2 separate regions of the Homo sapiens genome follow, and region 2 is linked to region 1. The links come from fine-mapping of genetic effects on gene expression. A gene starts in region 1. The other region holds a variant in brackets. All regions are shown on one strand. Distances are between the middles of the regions.

The links.
Region 2: its variant is fine-mapped to the expression of PNPLA3 in whole blood (TOPMed, PIP 0.91).

What each region holds. Positions count from the first base shown.
Region 1 is chr22:43,921,158-43,926,676 of GRCh38, reverse strand. PNPLA3 (patatin like domain 3, 1-acylglycerol-3-phosphate O-acyltransferase) reads right to left here and starts at 2,872. Exons shown (of 9, transcript NM_025225.3): 1 at 2,579-2,872. The coding sequence starts at 2,765. RefSeq lists enhancers at 1,570-2,312, 2,313-3,057, 4,474-4,974.
Region 2 is chr22:43,969,687-43,974,686 of GRCh38, reverse strand. SAMM50 (SAMM50 sorting and assembly machinery component) reads right to left here. Exons shown (of 15, transcript NM_015380.5): 5 at 2,345-2,451; 6 at 1,686-1,816; 7 at 1,364-1,451. Among named protein-coding and RNA genes, the nearest start is that of SAMM50, 17 kb to the right of the region's middle. The variant A/G (reference allele first, on the strand shown) is at 2,528.

The DNA of each region.
Region 1 (5,519 bases):
TGATATTATTTTGGATATATTGGGCTCAATGAAATTAATTCTACCTGTGTCTTTTACTTTATTCAATGTGGCTTCTAGAAAATGCACAATGACATCATGGCTTCCAGTGTATTCCTACCACACAGCACTGCTGTAGGCCTCAGCCACAGGAATGAGTCTCCCACTTCCAGAAGCCCAGGCGAGCAGGCCTCACCTCCATGCCCCACCTCCATGCCCCACATAGAGGCCAGGAACATATCAGCATTAGAGCTTTGGTGTAGATGGCCTTAATGCTATCAGGTGCAGGAGATCTGACCTCACTTACTGGCCTGGCCTCTCAGGCTGATCTGCACTCTCCTGGCATGCAAGACCACCCCTCCCAGCCCAACCCCTGGCCAGCCATAAATCTTGGGATGCACAGGGACAGGCAGGCCCCAGCCTGTCCTGACCCAAATCTGATCTTGACTCACAGCTCTCCTTCCCTGAGTGGCCAGAGGGGTGGAATTGCACGTGGCTGGCAGGTTCTGCCTGTCCCTCCTGCCAAGTTAGCCTCAGCTCAGATGCACTGAGGTGCTGTGTCCAGGATGCAGCCTCTGGGACATGCTCAGCAGCCCCCAAGTGCACAGCCCTCTGTGAGACAGGGGGTTAAAGCAGGAACCTGGAGCCCTGGAACCCAGGGAGTGGCTCCTGCCAACGCCTCCAGATCCACCTTCCAGGGACTTGGTGGTTCCTGAGCCTCCCTGTGTCCTGCCTGGGAAAGCCCCAGGCTGCACCTGTCCTCTGCCCAGTAAGGAATCCTTTCTATACCAGAGTGAGTGTACTTTAGGCTCCTGGGACCTCTGCATTTGAATTCTGTCCCAGTGTAAACATTTGTCCATGTGGGTGTCCACAGGCCACCTTGGGATACAAAAAAGCTGACTTTTATTGTTGCTAAACCCCAGGGTGTGCAAATGATCATGTGGCGGTCTAATCCTCCTGGAGGCCACATTTCGTGCCCTTTGCTCCTCTCCCCCTGGCTTAGGGGAAGGCAGACAGCCAGGACTGTCTAATCCCTAATCCCCACCTCCCAGTCAGCCCAGGGGCTGCCCACTGCTCCTACCCAATGGCAGGGCTTCCTCTGCCCGCTTCCTCACCACTGAACAGTCACTCCCTGCTGGCTCTGGCAGGCAGGGCAAAGAGTCCATTGTTAAGGAAGCCCAGATAAAAGGGGGCTAATGGGGGCATAATCTCCTGCCTGGGGACGTCTGGGTGTCAATAGCTTCACAATGCTACTTGCCCCAGCCCCTGCCTACTGGCTCACAACCCCCTCCTCGCCTCCAGGACTGTGGCACACAAATTCCCAGGAAGCATACCACACCCCAGTAGTTCCAGCTAGTGAGAAACAAACCCTCCGTCTGCACCCCCACCACACACACACAGGTACCCACATGGACAAATATTTCATTAGGACAAGATTCAAATGTACGGAATCTCATTTCCAGGAGTACTGAGCCGGAGAGGGGAGGGTGGGCCTAGGTCAGTGGAAACTAGAGAAGAGGATGGGATTGGGGGGTGTCCAGGGATGCACTCCAGCCCCCAGGAAGGGTCCCAAACACTGGAGGAGGAGGAGGAGGAGGAAACAACTTTCCTCTTTCAAGGTACCCCTCCCCACTAGACTCCAGTTAGCCTGCCCTGGAGGATGCCCAGGGTTGCCCTTCTGGGAGGCTACCCAGCCCCCAGAAGGCTGGGCTGCGACCCAGAGAGCGTAGGCAGCAGGGAGCAGTGGCTCACGCCTGTAACCCCAGCATTCTGGGAGGCCGAGGTGGGCAGATCACGAGGTCAGGAGATCGAGACCATCCTGGCTAACACGGTGAAACCCCGTCTCTACTAAAAAATACAAAAAATTAGCCGGGCTTGGTGGCTGGCGCCTGTAGTCCCAGCTACTCGGGAGGCTGAGGCAGGAGAATGGCGTGAACCTGGGAGGTGGAGCTTGCAGTGAGTTGAGATCACGCCACTGCACTCCAGCCTGGGCGACTGAGCGAAACTCCGTCTCAAAAAAAAAAAAAGAAAAAAAGAAAAGAAAAGCGCAGGCGCGGGGTGTCTTGAGTCCCTCAATCCCCAGAGGGAAGGAGCCCACCGTGGGGGACCGGCCAAAGCCCCACTCTTTGTCCGGCCCAGGGCAAATCGGCCCCTCGGCAGCTCAGCCCGTCCAGCCCCTCCCGAGAGGACACAGGGGACCCGGAGTCCGCAGGGGCCAGCACTACCCTCCGCCCCGGGTCCCGCTCCCTACTCCCCGTCGCTCCGAGACGCTCCGACTCTCAGTCCGGAGGTGAGGGTCTCCCTTCATGCACGGGCGCCTGATGGGGGTAGGGGTGGGGACGCACGAGAGTCCCAGGCTTCGGCCCGGACCGCTCGGGGTTCCAACGCCCCCTTCCCGGGCCCAGGAACAGCGCCCCCGCAGGAAGCATCTGCCTCGGAGGGGGCCCTCGGGATGCACCCCGCCGTGTCCGCGTCCGATGCCCGCTCCTCCAGGGCCCCGCGACCCCTGGGGATCCCCCGCTCCCCGGCCTAGGGGGCACCCACTCCGCACGTGGAGCCCGGGCAGCGTCCCCAGACGCACCCAGCGGGATACCGGAGAGGACGCCGACGCAGTGCAACGCCCCGGCCGAAGCGCCGAACAACATGCGCGCGTCGCGGAGGAGGTGCGGGGCGTGCTCGCTCAGGCAGCGGGTCGCCCCGACGTGGTAGAAGCCCAGGAAGCCGCAGCCCGCGAAGGACAAGCTCCAGCCGCGCTCTGCGTCGTACATGGCGGCGGCGGCGGGGCGGGGGCGCGGGTTAGGATCTGGGTCGGGATCGGGAATCGGCTCGGGTCCTGATCCGCAGCAGCTCCGCCCGGCGCCCGCAAGCGCTCTCTACCCTGCCTCAGTGTCTCGGCCAGGGCATTCCCAGCGCGACGTCAGCCCCGCCCCCCTCGGACCATGCAAATGAGCCGGCGGGAGGCCCAATGAGCGGGCAGGACGCCCTCCCGGGCGGGGCTTGGAGGGGGATGGGGGTGGGGACGACGTCTGGCGGGGGATGGGGGCGGGGACCGGGTCTGGGAGGGGGATTGGGGGCGGGGGCTGGGAGGGCGATGGCGGAGGACCTGTGCGGGGGGGTCCAGCCTGGGAGCTCCCCGCAGCGACTCGAGAGAAAGCATTTTTCCAAAACTCCAGCAGACACTGCATGTCCTGGAGAGAAACGGCTTCCTTCTGTTTTCCTTGACATCTGTTAAGTCGGGGGGTGGGAGGGGAGTCGCAGTTGGTGCCCACTTGATCCTTAACATCACTTTAACACTTTATCACGTCCCTTTTGACCCGGGGAGAGCCAGCCTAAAGCAGGCACCACCACCTGAAGAGTCTACTCTCTGCGTTGTTGCAGGCTTTCTGTATGATTGCCTTCAAGTGCTGGGGATTTTTTTCATTGAATGAAAGTAACAGGAAGTGTCCATTTCAAAGTTTCCTTTGTAAGTAAAAAATGTGAATGACGGGTGCTGGGGCTGGGGTCGGGGCCCTGTAGGAACTGGGGAGTGGGGAGTGCTTTGGGAAGCTGAGGCCTGGATGATTCCTGGTCCCTTAGTCCCTTAGTCCGTTCAGGTGCGAAAACAAAACACCTTAAAGCGGAGGGGCTTACAAACAAGAGATTTATTTCTATCTTTTTCCCCCCAGGCTGGAGTGCAATGGCACGATCTTGGCCCACTGCAGCCTCTTCCTCCCGGGTTCAAGGGATTCTCCTGCCTCAGCCTCACGAGTAGCTGGGATTACAAGCATGCGCCACCATGCCTGACTAATTTTTTGTATTTTTAGTAGAGATGGGGTTTCACCATGTTGGCCAGGCTAGTCTAGAACTCCTGACCTCAAGTCATCACCCACCTCAGCCTCCCAAAATGCTGGGATTACAGGGGTGAGCCACTTCGCCTGGCTTATTTCTCTGTCTCACAGTTCTGGAGGCTGGAAAGCCCAAGTTCAAGATACCAGCAGATTTGGTCCCTGGTGAGAGGTATGGCTCGTAGAAGGTGCCATCTTGCCACATCCTCACCTCTGGGCCTCTTTGATAAGGGCACCAATCCCATTCATAAGGGTGCCACCCTCTCATCAAATCACCTTCCAAAGGCCCCCGCCTCCAAAGATCATCACCTTAAGGTGTAGGATTTCAACAGATGACCTTTAGTGGGGACACAAACATTTGGATAGTAGCATGCCCTTAGGAGATGCCTAAGAGGCCCCTTGACCTTGACCTACCCCTGGCACTGGGTGGAGCAAGCCCACAGCAGTACATGGAGCCAAGTTAGACCTTGGTCCAGAGCTCCTCACTGGAGGACCCTGGTCTGCCGGGCCATAGCGCCCCCAGCTGGAGTGGACCAGGAAGCCCTCCCCCTTCTCCGTGAGACCTGGAGGAATGCAGAGTATGTGAGCTTTGGGGTCAGGCCTCTGCCCTCTTTGTGGCTCAGTGTCCTCAACTGCAGAATGACTGGTGGTGTTGTAAAACAGGTGACATTGCTGTCAGGATTCCAAATGTCACCTGAGAAGCACCTGGATTGGTTGGGTGGTTCATGTTCAACTGAGCTTCCCCATTCTGCTGCAGTCCTTGCTTTTGCCTTGCCTGGAGGGGTAGGGGAGCTGGGAGCAGGGCTGCCTCCTTTCTCTGGGCAGGAATCCCAGGGCATGGGAGCTTCAGGCCTTAGTGAATACCTGGGCTGACTGCCTCATCACATAGACACTTTGTAGATGGAGGCCCAGAGCAAGGCAGGGTCAGGTCCTAAGTCCCGGGGAAGGTCAGGAGAGCTGAGAAGCAGACAGGGGGTCCCATCTATTCCTGACGTGTTGGCTTTGCTGGAGAGGGGCATTACCTACAGTCCTGCCCTAACTGCCCTCCACCCCCACCTCACGCTCAGGGCTGCGGCGGAACTGAGGCTTCTGGAGGGGACAGCTGGGGTCAGAACCTCTAGCCTCCTGTACCCATCCATCCCTCCTGCATTGCATGACCAGTCTTAGGACTAATGACAGGAGGGCCAGGCTCTGGCACAGGAATTTGAGGCTGTGACCGAAGGCCCGAGATGAGTCACCCTGCCACCAGCCACAGGCATTCATATTCTCTTCCTGTCCACCGGCATTCATTCTTGGCCAGCCACACTGGACATCTGTCATCCCCAGTGTGACCCAGATGTGGGCAGGACAGGAGCAGGGCTGAGGACTCACCCCCTCTTCGTCACTGCATGTAGACAGCAGCTGGGGGCCCTCCCCACTTTCCAGAGACAAAGAGAGGACCCAGCTGGGCAAGGGTTTCATGGTCCAGCTCTCTCAGCCCCCCATCCAGCCTCCAGTGGGACAGGCACATGATATCATGGTTGAGACTGCAAGCTTTGGCATCAGACAGCCAGTGCACAAGACTCGCAAGCATCATTTCATCTCTCAGAGCTTCACTTTTTATATCTGTACCATGGGGGAGAAAACAGTTGTGTGAGGGGCATTGTGAAGTTAAATGTGATGAACAGAAAGCACCCAGCCCAGTGCCTGGCAGTACTG
Region 2 (5,000 bases), 48 kb before region 1:
CACCAGAGGGCATCCGAGGACGGTTTCAAAGCAGAAAGGTGTCTCAGGGCTGCTCCCTTCCAGACAAGAAAATTTGGAGAAAAGGAAATGAAAGTGCAAATGTGCCTGGATTCTCCTATCTCCATCTTGAACCTGGAGTCTACCTGGCCCAGCTCTGTGTGCTCTGAGTTCTCATGGCCTTGGTCTGCAAGGACCAGAGGCCTGGGGCACTAACGCACCTCAAGCACCTAAACTGCGCCACGCGCCGCATCAGGAGCTTTACCACGCCTCTCATCCAACCCTCACAACGGCCCTGGGAGACCCCGCGCTCCTGTCCTTCATTTCACAGATGAGTCATTTGCCTGAGGTCGCACAGCCCTAAGGGAGACGGGGGAGTCAAGCCCAGGTGGTCGCCTCCAGGGCTTCTGCTGGGTTCTTGGAGGGAGAGCACACTTAAAGCTTCCTGGGCCCCACTCTCTGTGAGTCGGACTTGGCAGCTCAAGGTGGAGCCCGCGAATGTGCATTTCTAACAAGCCCACAGCTGAGGTCGATGCTGCTGGTCTGAAGACCACATGTGGGGAACGACTCTTACATAGTATTCTATCTCAGGGCTCTCCGCAAGAACTAAAGCCCAGAACAAGAGGAGTCAGGAACAGTGGCGAAAGGAAGGAGAAAAAAAAAAAGCAGGTTATCATAAAGCCCCAAAAAGGCCAAATGATACGAATTCCAATGGTGGCATTTAATCACACCCTTCTAGGTGTAAACTTAGGTGTGAACCAAAAATGAAACCTTCCGGACCAGGTGCAGTGGCTCACACCTGTAATCCCAGCACTTTGGGAGGCTGAGACGGGCAGATCACTTGAGGTCGGGAGTTCGAGACCAGCCTGGCCAACATAAGGAAACCGCCATCTCTACTAAAAATAACAAAAATTAGCTGGGCACGGTGACGGAGGCTGAGGCAGGAGAATCACTTGAACCGGGGAGGCGGAGGTTGCAGTGAGCCGAGATCGTGCCATTGTACTCCAGCCTGGGCGACAAGAGCAAACCTCTGTCTCAACAACAACAAAAAAGAAACCTTCCAGTGATCTGACCAACTCTGCTGACTATGAGAAACTGTCAGTCTCCACACATATGGGGAGGGACAACCAATGGTGCCTCGGGTAGTCAGGACCAGGTTAAGGAGCTGCTAACATGGGCATCAGCCACTCTCGGGTCCCTGTAGCCTGTACTCGGCTAGAGAAGAGGCACCTGGCCAGGAGGTACCTGGTGCGGAGGGCAGAGGGCCTGTGCTTTCCACGCTGCCCTCTTGCTGCCTTTGGGAATCAGTGAAAAAGCCACCCTGTTTTCCCCCAAGCCCAGAGGGAAGGACTGAAATGCTACTCACACTGTACTCAGCTGACATTCCTCTGTCCGTCTCCCGCAGTGAGCTCCAAGGGAACTGTCCAGTAACTTTATATAAGTTTACAGAGAAACTAGGAGACAATGGGATAGAGCTTTAAAAGCTGAAACAGTGATTAGAACTTGCACACATTTAAATCAACAGACTTAACACTACGCCCGTAGGGCTCATCTTCAAGAGGAAATCTACAGCATGTGGTCACTGCAGAAGTGGCAGCTGATTCTGTCATGGTTCTTTTCACAAATAAGCCACCTATTTTAACTTTTCTATCAGGCCAGTGTACTCAATGATCTGTTGGGCTTCCTACTTTCTTTCGAAGTTTCCGGGCCGTGGTTTGAAGAAGGACAGGCCATACGAAGTTTCTTTTGTTCCATAGGAAAACTGAAAGGTCACCTTTTCTGCACGACCAAGAAGATTAGGAAGCTTGAGGCCAAGTACCTAGGAGGGGAAAAAAAAAAAATAGCAGTGGTCTACATTGAAGGAATGAGAACTTTGGATTGGATAAAGACTATGCTAGCTAAGGGACTTTCATAAAAACAGAAGGAAGATGCTAACTACAGATCTAGTCTTTCATTTGTAATCACTTTCATTCTTTAAAACATGCCGCTGCTGAGTGCTCACATCCTGCATTCAAACCTGATTAATGCAAGGGACAAGCTAACCTTGCCACCCGTGAGGCTCAAGAATGTTACAGATTTAGAGTTTAAAGGAATTTGAACAAGAGACTATTAATATGAACATTCTCCAAATCATTCCTAATTACTAACGTTAACATTGTTATCAAACAACCCAAAACATATTATCACCAATTCTACGGTGATTAAAGAGAAACCACAAATAACAACAGATTAAGGTAAATGAAATGACCGAATTTTGAAACTATCATCAGCTTTTAGAATGCAGTCATAGTGTAAAAGTTCCCAACTCTAAGTTCCAATATAAGAAAGTAAAAAGCCTGTAGCATACCATACTGCCTTCATTGTTTCCAACCATGGTGTTATAACTGCCCGTTAATCTCCTCAATTCAGTTACTTCAAAGGTAACGTCTAACCCATTTGGAAGTGCGTCATCACCTAAATAAAAAAATATTAAACAATAAGACAGCCAGGATGTTATTTTACTTTGGGTTCCCATTGCTAAAAAAGACAA[A/G]AAGCAATCTGAAGGTTCATTCTATTTTACAATCTCCTTTAGAAAATAATATAATCATGAGAAACGTTTAAGAACACTCCCACACAAAATCAAAATATTGCACACCTCTACACCAAAAAATAATGTTTCTAGTTTCTCTGGTAGAATATATCAATAAACAGGGCTGAGCACAGTGACTCAGGCCTGTAATCACAGTGCTTTGGGAGGACAAGGTGGGAGGATCACTTTCAGGCCAAGAGTTCAAGACCAGCCCCAGCAACATAGCTACAAAAATTTTAAAAATTAGCCAGATGTGGTGGCGAGCACCTATAGTCTCAACTATTCGGGAGGCTGAGGTGAGAAGATCACTTGAGCCCAGCAGTTGGAGGCTGCAGTGAGCTATGACTGTGCCACTGCATTCCAGCCCGGACGACAGAGCAAGACCCTGTCTCTAAAAAAAAAACCAAAAACCAAAAAACAAAAACAATCTACCTTTGCTACAAGGAGATAACTATAAGCAGCATTATTCACTTAAGCAAACTTAAGCAAACAATATTTGCTAAAGGAATCTGTTCTCCTATTAGAGAGGTCCTTGAAAATATTTGGGTTCTCAATTCAACCGACATGAAAATGGGGAACTCACATGACAATAGGGGTGTCAGTAACCCTCGAAGATAAGTGTGAGATTGTTTACTGTGTTACTGTGTGTAAGAGGCATGTCTGTCCTCCCCCGCACCAGGTATGATTTGGGTCTGAGCTGGAAGCAGCCACCTCGTGACCCACCATGGCCCTGGGGTGCCTTGTGCAGAGCGGGCTGGGCTCTGTAGGAATGAGTGGCCTCTCACAGGAAGGAAAGGCGACTCCTGCCTTGTACACAGGGGTGCTCAGCCCTGGCTGGACATCTAGACGCATCTGGGCAACTGTCAAAATATGCTGATGCTCAGGCACCGCTCTAGGAACTCAGGTCCAACAGTTCTAGGGTGGAGCCTCAGTACTGTCTTTTCTTTTTTTCTGAGATGGAGCCTCATTCTGTCACCCAGGCTGGAGTGCAGTCGGATGATCTCAGCTCACCACAACCTCCACCTCCCGGGTTCAAGCAATTCTCCTGCCTCAGCCTTCCGAGTAGCTGGGATGACAGGCACCCGCCGCCACACTCTGCCAATATTTTTTGTATTTTTAGTAGAGACGGGGTTTCACCATGTTGACCAGGCTGGTCTCGAACTCCTGACCTCATGATCCAGCCGCCCTGGCTTCCCAAAGTGCTGGGATTACAGGCGTGAGCCACCCCGCCTGGCACCATCTTTTCTTTCTTTTTCTTTTTTTATTTTTTATTTTACTTTATTTTTTATTTAGTGGACTTTATTTCTTAGAGCAGCTTTAGGCGCACAGAAAGATAAAGAATTGAAGCCAGCAACAGTGGGTTGCGGGTAAAAAAAAAAGATAAAGCAGAAAGTACAAAGTTTTTGTACAAACTACAAAAGTACAAAGAGTTTCCATGAACCTCTCCTTACCCCGACACACACTTACTAACACCTCGCATGTGTGGTACATTTGTCACAACTGATAAACCCATACACCAATTATTAACTCAAGTCCAGTGACTTCCCAGCCTCCCCTGCACCTAGGTGTGGCCAAGTGATTAAGTCCTGGCCAATGGGATGAGAGCAGTGCCGTGTACAACACCTAGGACAGGTGCTTAAAGGGAGGGGTAAGCCCTCTCAATCTCCTGTGCTCCTCCAATACTGGAATGAGGACACGGTGCTCAGCCATCAGAGGGACTCAGGGACCCTAGGGATGACAAAGCAACAAGACACCACGGGGGGAAACTACACCAGCCCAGGGTGACTTCAGGGAACGAAGCACCACACCAGCCCAAGGTGACCTCAGGAAACCACACTAGCCCAAGGTGACTTCAGAGAACAAGGCACCACACTAGCCCAAGGTGACCCCAGGGAACCACAGGAAACCACGCCAGCCCAAGGTGACCTCAGGGAACGCAGCACCACACCAGCCCTTGGCAGTCTCCCAGCTGTGTGGAGAGATGGAGACTTCTCTCTTGTCTAAGCCACTGTTCTTTTAGGTCTGTTAGTGTTGGCTGAAACTATACTCCAAATAATGAAAATGTCCTTAGTTTATCTAGCACCTTATTTTTTGCAAGCATTTTCCTATATTGTCTTATCTAGGCCTTCTCAAAATTACCCCCCATTCAATTCTGAAGAGTTACTCATTCACAGATTCATTCCAAATTTTATTTTTCAATGGTGTCTGCTGAATTCTGACTAAAGTGGGAACTCTACCGCGCCATGTTAGGCCCACCACGGTCTGGGCTCCTGACGGCTTTTCTTCCTTGTCTTCCAGCACTCCATTCCCCCAACCTGCACTCCAGCTCTTCCTACACTTGCGGTCCACCCAGCGAGCCACTCTCCCCTGGCGTGGGCCTGATAAGTGCTATCTCTGTCCCCAGAACATTCTTCACCCCACCTCACTACCAGCC